Linked DNA regions of Homo sapiens. The protein of the gene in region 1 purifies or fractionates together with the protein of each later gene. This does not show direct contact. Each region holds a gene or a part of one and is shown on either strand. Other genes may lie near its edges.

Region 1 (3,825 bases):
AAATGGAAACATTTCCAAACATGACAATTACACAGAAAAAGTATGCCTACCATTGAAGTTGGAGTCCCTCCAGATTTTTTAATATTCTTTGAAGACATTCCATGAAGGCGACTGAGTCTAGCTTGGAAACCTGTAAAATCAAAGTACTCAATTTAGAAGTTTTCTATGATCACTGAAGCATAGAAGAAGAAGAGGATCCTATCAATAGAGAAAGAAAAGTAAGTTGGTGGTGGCGGTGAATGCCACGAATATTATTTGGGAAAATGCAAAACTCACACTTAAAAAAACTGAAGCAATGCCTAGCAAAGTACTAAGGCAGTCAGCACTTAACTAACCAGTGTTCAATCACTAGAGTAATAAATACCCATTTTCTTTTTTCCGAATTAACATTCTTATCATTTCAACATTTTCTCAATGAGCCTAGCAAGAAAGCAAGTCAATTTTTCTAATAATTTGAAAGCATGATAAATGTAGTAGCTATATTAGTGGCCAATATGTTTCTTTACAGCATCTTGTGTTTACATTCTCTAATTTCCACTTTATCTTATCCTCCTTGAATGAATATTCCTAGACTGACCTTAAACCCATTATATCTACCAGGGAGCCAGTGCTACTGACCTCTTCTGCTTGGGTGTGACATAAGGGGAAAAGAACCAGTTAAGATACTTTCAAAGACAGGATCTGGTACATTTTTGTCTAGCTCAGTAGGATCTTCCTTTTCCCACCAGGGCACAACTCCAGTGATACCACATGCTCCACCTGATTCCTTTTCGTAGAACCAGTCACTCTGTTCATCATCACCTGTGCAAATACAAGAAACCCCCCCCCACCAAAGACTCAGTTTTATCATCCAGTTACACAATTAGTCTTGTCAGGTAATAAAAATACAAGATGGCAGTTAAATTTGAATTTGAGATCAATGACTAACTTTTAATATAAGTATTATATACTTGCACTAAATTTTTGGTGGAAATATGTCTAAGTACTGCATGGGACATACCTGTACTAAAAAATTATGTGTTATTTACCTACAATTTAAATGTAATTGGGGATCCTATGTTTTATTTGACAACTGCATATACAATCTATAAGGAAAACTTTTTATTTTATACCACAGCTTCACTTAAGAAATGTTATCTTAAGACTCTAAGAACTGCCAGCAACAAAAACACAAAATATTATGTTTTAGAACCAATTTTAAAATGTGAAAAACAATAATAAACTGGTTAATCCTTTGGCAAAAACTATTAGAAAATCCATTTAAGTTACTACCCCTTCCACGTTAAGAAAAAACAAACCTTAATCTGCTCCTGGGAATTAAAAAGTATTAAAACTGTGGAACCCTTTCTTTGCAGCAGATATAGGTATATAATTAGCTTAATTTCATGATTTGTATGGAGTGTAAAAGGGGAAACAATCATGAACAGATGTGACTAAATGAAATTAATCCAATTAAGCTCATTAAGAAATAGTTTTGAAAAAGTTGATTTTAAATGAAAAGTGACAATACCTTAGAGTTTATGAAGAAACTATATTAAATAATCGAGATGTTTTTGCCCAACAAAACATTTTTTGTCTGTGAGACAAAAACACAGAAGACAGATGGCTTTTAAAAGAAAGAGACACAGGCCAGTCATGGTGGCTCATGTGTGTAATCCCAGTGCTTTGAGAGGCCAAAGTGGGAGGATCATTTGAGGTTAGGAGTTCCAGACCAACCTGGGCAAGAAAGCGAGACCCTGTCTCTACAAAAAGATTAAAAATTAGCCGGGCATGATGACATGCACCTGTAGTCCTAGCTACTCGGGAGTCTGAGGCAGGAGGATCCCTTGAGCCCAGCAGTTTGGGGTTACAGTGAGCTATGATTGCACCACCAGCCCTCCAGCCTGGACCACAGGGCGAGACCTTGTGTTAAAAAAAAAAGATAGAGAAAAGAAAAGAAAAACAGAAAGAAACAAACAGCATTTTTAAGATGATCTGCGATTCATTAAAGTCTCCTTCCCTTGATTATGAGAAGCCACCACTAATTCTGGTTTCTAAGAGGGTCGTTGTAATTGTCATAAACTTTTCCCTTTACAGAAAGATATTTCTGATTTCTAAAATCTCTTACAACAGACATCTTTAAAGGAAAACTAAAAATACTCTTAAGCTTCAGTTGAAAATTATTTTATGAGAAATAGCTATATTTCAACTAAGTCACAATGGAAAATTAAAGGCATTTCAAAAATTAGAGTCATCAGCTCGTTTCTACTGGGGAATTAATTAAAAAAATTTTTCAAAACACACAATTAACAGCACTTAGATATCAGGACTTTTACTGAGCTTTACATTAAAATTACACAGATCAGGTTTAAGCATAAGAAAAAACAGGGCCTCACTTGAAACTGACTACCATATATCTGAATTCCAACACTATTACAGAAAAATAAAGTTATTTTATTTTTGATGTAATACACAACTTTATTCTTCAATAGGGAAATCAAATAGTCATTGATTAAGAACTTGCTCTGAAATCAGACAGACCAATTAGAATTCTAGTGTCTGTAACATCAGGAAAGTTACTTCAACTCTATTAGAGTCAGTTTCTTCATTTTAAAAACTTGGGAATCTCAAAGGGATTTTAAGAATTAATTAAAAACTTAAATGCAAGGAAAACACTTAGCAACGTGAAACATAGTAAGTTCACAATAAATGCTGGCATATCATTCTAAGCCTTTCCATACTTATCAAAGATTGACAGGCTTGTCAAAGTTTTTTTTTACTTTTTTTCATTTCATTTTATTTCATAACCAATATCAGCATTTATAATACAATCCTGAGAAAAGATCTGTATTTTAATGAGAATTTAAGTATATTATCAGGATGGTTACCCTTGCATTTAGCCCCAGCATTCTAACATATTTCAGCAAAGTATCAACTTTAAAGTCCATGGTCTTTCAAACAGTTATGTACCTATTCATTTAGGACAAATAGTTTACAAGCAGGCAAAAAAGAATGATCACTTATGTTTTTTGTACTGCCAAAAGGATGAACAGACTAAGAAAAAAAGTATAGGAGGCTACTTTGTCCTTTTCTTATAACATCATTAACTAAATTTATAATTTAAAATTTATATTAGTGTTTTTCACTTGGAACTTACTGTCTTCCTCTAATGTATTCTTAAGAAAGGAAGAAAACATTTGTGATAGGTATCTGTATGTATGATTTGTATGGAGCGTAAAAGGGAAACAATCATGAGCAGGTGTGACTAAATGAAATTAATCCTATTAAGGATTAATCCTGCTCCCTTATTAAGGTTTTTTTAAATTTTTCATAGCTTCAAAATACTGCCATGTTACAGACTGAAGCTTCTGGAAGTTTCAAAGATGGAAAACATATAAGTTGCAAGACATTTCTGTTTAATGGTTTACAATATTGAATTCATAAAAATCATCTAATTACTTACAAACTGGATAGAATGAATAAATGTCACAGCTGAATAAAAATGACAAATGACTTGGAAATCCACCTTTATGAATGCTTAAACAGTTTTAAGTACATCTGGAATTAGAGAATGAGAACCAGTTTCTTTCAAACTTGCTAAAAGAGAGAAAATCAAAAAGGTACCTAGAGCTTTCTCAAACAAGATAATCCTTCCTTAATATTATTAGCTCCACATACTAGCTTTTGGAGATAATCAATTACTTAGGTCATGAAGACAGGACACCCTCCATAGCATATAAAAAACCAGCTACGATACTAAATCCTAGTTCACTAAGTAATATGTGTAAGGTAAATGGATTGCAGTCATCAACTTATGAAATAACCAGTAATAAGCTCCACTTTAGA
Region 2 (3,825 bases), on another chromosome or scaffold:
GATAAAGAAGCCACAGCTAAATACAACAATTTTCTTACCAGGTCTTGCTGGTTGCTAGAGAACCAGATGGTGATCCATAGGGGTGAGAATGAAGAATAACATTCTCATTAAGAAGAAAAACAGAAGAACTGGTGTTCTTCCAAACTGGAAGTCCCTTAAAATGTCCTAAATCAGTATACTTTCTCCAACGTGCCCTCTCTCTATAGGGAATTAAGAGTAAGGAGAACAGGCAAAGTGTGTTTCTTAAGTATAAAAAGAAGTTGTTTTAAATATGGATTTTTTTTCCCAGCTCTGAAAGCATCTCTCTGTTGTTAAAAAGCAATTTAAAACATCCTTAAATAATTTGTTATAAAATATATCTCATGATATTCTTTGTAGCTAAAAGTTTAATAAACATACTTTCTTTCACAGAGGTTCTTTATTCACAAATGCTACCTGTTAAAAATATATTCCTTATGCGACTACTCATTTCCATAGTTATCAACTGTGATATCAATGACTATGAGATTTGACAGAAAAGATACAACACGTAACTTTTTTCAAAAATATGTTATTTAAAACACTAAAATAATTTATAAAATAGCATTCAAGTGATGCCACAGAACAAAACACTCCTATTCTATAACCATGTGTGAAGACTGTGAAATTAAGTGACTGGTCTCCCAAAGCAGTATAACCTAGAGAGCTGATTATAGAGAAAACAAATCATGAAGAATTCCAATAGTTATAAAATTTTTCATTTTGGATAATATCTTCTTACCATCTTTGCAGGTTTTTCCATTCTCCAGGAGTTTGACCCCAGTGGGGCAAGCACACTGATAAAAAGGCTTGACTGGAGACATCAAACACAAATGGGAACAACCCCCATTGTCAATTCCACATGGATTTGTGGCTGTCAAATATAAATCACATTGATTAATATCAATGATTACTAAGTACACAAAGGTTAACAACCATAACATGAACAACTGTGATAAGCCAAAATTATTACCAAATGTCATGCAGGTGCTTGACTATCAAACCATCTGCAAAGACAGGAATTAATCAGTGTGAATTTACTTAGTATTTTGTAACCAAAGAGGAATACACAAGAAGTAAAGCAGGAGATCCCTGCCCTAAAAGAGGTTACAATTTAGTCAGTTAAACAAAATTAACAAAAAGCAAAACTAAAAACAAACAAACAAACAAACAAAACCAATAAAACTAAGTGCTATTTTGCACATTATAGACAATAAGTACAGAGTCAAATGGGAAAAAAACCGCTGAGGTTTAAAGAATTGAAGAAGAGCTTTGTGGAGTATACAGCACGGGAGCCTTCAAGGATAGGAAGGATAGATAAGAGGACATTTCAAGTATGGTAAAGCTATCTGAATAAAACTTTGGGGGCTATAAACTGGGTAAGATATTAAGGTGAACAGTATAACTGGAGGTTAAGGTTTCTACTGACTAATAGGAACTAAAGCTGAATGAATACAAAGAATGGGAATAGATTAAAGTGAAGGACACTGAAAGCCAAGAAAAGTAATTATGTTGAAAAGTCATGCCTTGGGAAGATTAACATAGAAGGGATAAGCAGAAAAAAGGGGAAAATGAAAATCAGAGAAAACTAATTAGCAAACTTTGGAAATTATGGAAAGGGATATGTCCAAACAATACTCATAGAAAAAAATCAACATAAGATGGAGACCAATGGAACATGAAAGATAAAAGTAACCAACATGAAAGATAACTGCAAATTCTCAAATTAGTAAAACATAAAGGACCAACAATGCCATTTAAAAAGAAAAACAAGAGGCCAGGCACGGTGGCTCGTGACTATAATCCCAGCACTTTGGGAGGCCTAGGTGCGTGGATCACTTGAGCCCAGGAGTTTGAGACCAGCCTGGGTCACCAACATGGTGAGACCCTACCTCTATAAAAAATACTAAAATTAGCCAGGTGTGGTGGCATATGCCTGTAGTCCCAGCTACTAGGGAGGCTGAGGTGGAAAGATCACTTGAGCCTGGAAGTTCGAGGCTGCAGGGAGCCGTGATCACATAAACGCACAACAGAGCAAGACTCTATCTCAAAAAACAAACAAAAAACAGGGAAAATTCTCTTTTGAGGGCTATGAAGAATAAAAAAATTCATACAAGTGACTGAACATTTTCTTTTGTACAGAAGAGTAACACATACACTTAAAAACATTTTTATGGGCTCATGATCATCAGATTCCAACATAACACTTTCAATATTTGATTATCTCCCCCTAAATGGAGAGCTAATATAAAGCAACATATGTTGCAAAATCTCTTCATTTTTGGCTATGTAATAAAATCTGAAATACACTCAGACAGATGCCAGACATTTATTTACACAAAAGTGCCAAACCCTTAACATTCTCGTATTCCTTTTAAACCTAATTCCAGTCCTCTCTTACAAGTTCTCAGCAGTCATAGCCCGAGTCATTGTAAAGGCTGACCAAACACAGAACCAAAACTAAGGAAAACAAGGTGGGAGGGGTACACAGAAAAGTTTAAGTAGGTATTTTATTTAGCAAGCTGAGGTACTTAAATTCAAATATATTCTAGATTAACAGAGTTTTCATTTAAAAAGAAGAGGCGTTTTTGTGTGTGTGTGTGTTTTTTGTTTTTTTTTTTTTTGAGACATAATTTCTTTCTTGTTGCCCAGGCTGAAAGTGCAATGGCGTGATCTTGGCTCACTGCAACCTCTGCCTCCCGGGTTCAAGCGATTCTCCAGCCTCAGCCTCCCAAGTAGCTGGGATTATAAGCACACGCCACCACGCCTGGCTAATATTTTTGTTATTTTAGTAGAGACGGGGTTTCACCATGTTGGCCAGGCTGGTCTCAAACTCCTGACCTCAAGTGATCCACCTGCCTTGGCCTCCCAAAGTGTGGGATTACAGGCATGAGCCACCGCGCCTGGCCCAAGAGTTTGTTTTTTAAACACACTCACATCAACACATTCAACTACATACTGAAAGAAATAATATGAACAAAAAAACTCATTTGTGTATAAGCCTAGCATATAAGCTATCTCAATTTTTAAATTATCTCTCTCTTCTCCACCTCTAAAAGCGCTGACTCAAAAAGGCTGAGGTGGTCTGTAGTGACAGGCTACAAAATGGTCTAGGCTATTGCCTAACCTGAATTATACTTTTACATTTTCCCTTTTTTTTGAGCAAAGTCTCGCTCTGTTGCCCAGGCTGGAGTGCAGTGGCACAATCTCGGCTCACTGCAATCTCCACCTTCCGGGTTCAAGTGACACTCCTGCCTCAGCCTCCCAAGCGGCTGGGACTACAGGTGCACACTACCACACCCCATTAATTTTTGTATTTTTTAGTAGAGACAGGGTTTCACCAGGTTGGCCAGGCTGGTCTCAAACTCCTGACCTCATATGATCTGCCTGCTTCAGTCTCCCAAAGTGCTGGGATTTTAACTTTTTTTTTTTTTTTTTTGAGACACAGTCTTTCTCTGTCTCCCAGGCTGGAGTGCAGTGGCGCAATCTCAGCTCACTGCAACCTCGGCCTCCCGAGTTCAAGTGATTCTCTTGCCTCAGCCTCCCAAGTAGGATTTTAACTCTTTTTTATTCCCGCCAACTATCTTTGGATATGCCCTCCCTCCTCCTGATCCTCACTAAAGCCAGACATTAGAGTGCTACAAAGCTGTTCCAACTTGCAATTTAAAAATCAAGGATCACTTACCATTTGGCTGCCTCTGTTGGCTGAAGGCATGTATATCCATGGGAGAGAAGATGTCAGAATGGATTTCACGCAGACCCTCACCAGTATACTTGTTGCAAGCCAAAATGGAGTGTGTGCTCCAG

What was found.
Region 2: the proteins of GPATCH2 (region 1) and LRP6 purify together in Homo sapiens (affinity purification with mass spectrometry; one large-scale study listed by BioGRID and IntAct). This does not show direct contact.

The regions. Positions count from the first base shown.
Region 1 is NC_000001.11:217,610,271-217,614,095, forward strand, and holds part of GPATCH2 (G patch domain-containing protein 2), read right to left. Parts: intron 802-3,825; coding exon 619-801; intron 131-618; coding exon 51-130; intron 1-50. UniProt on the Homo sapiens protein: Enhances the ATPase activity of DHX15 in vitro.
Region 2 is NC_000012.12:12,183,220-12,187,044, forward strand, and holds part of LRP6 (low-density lipoprotein receptor-related protein 6 isoform b precursor), read right to left. Parts: coding exon 3,704-3,825; intron 893-3,703; coding exon 761-892; intron 1-760. UniProt on the Homo sapiens protein: Component of the Wnt-Fzd-LRP5-LRP6 complex that triggers beta-catenin signaling through inducing aggregation of receptor-ligand complexes into ribosome-sized signalosomes.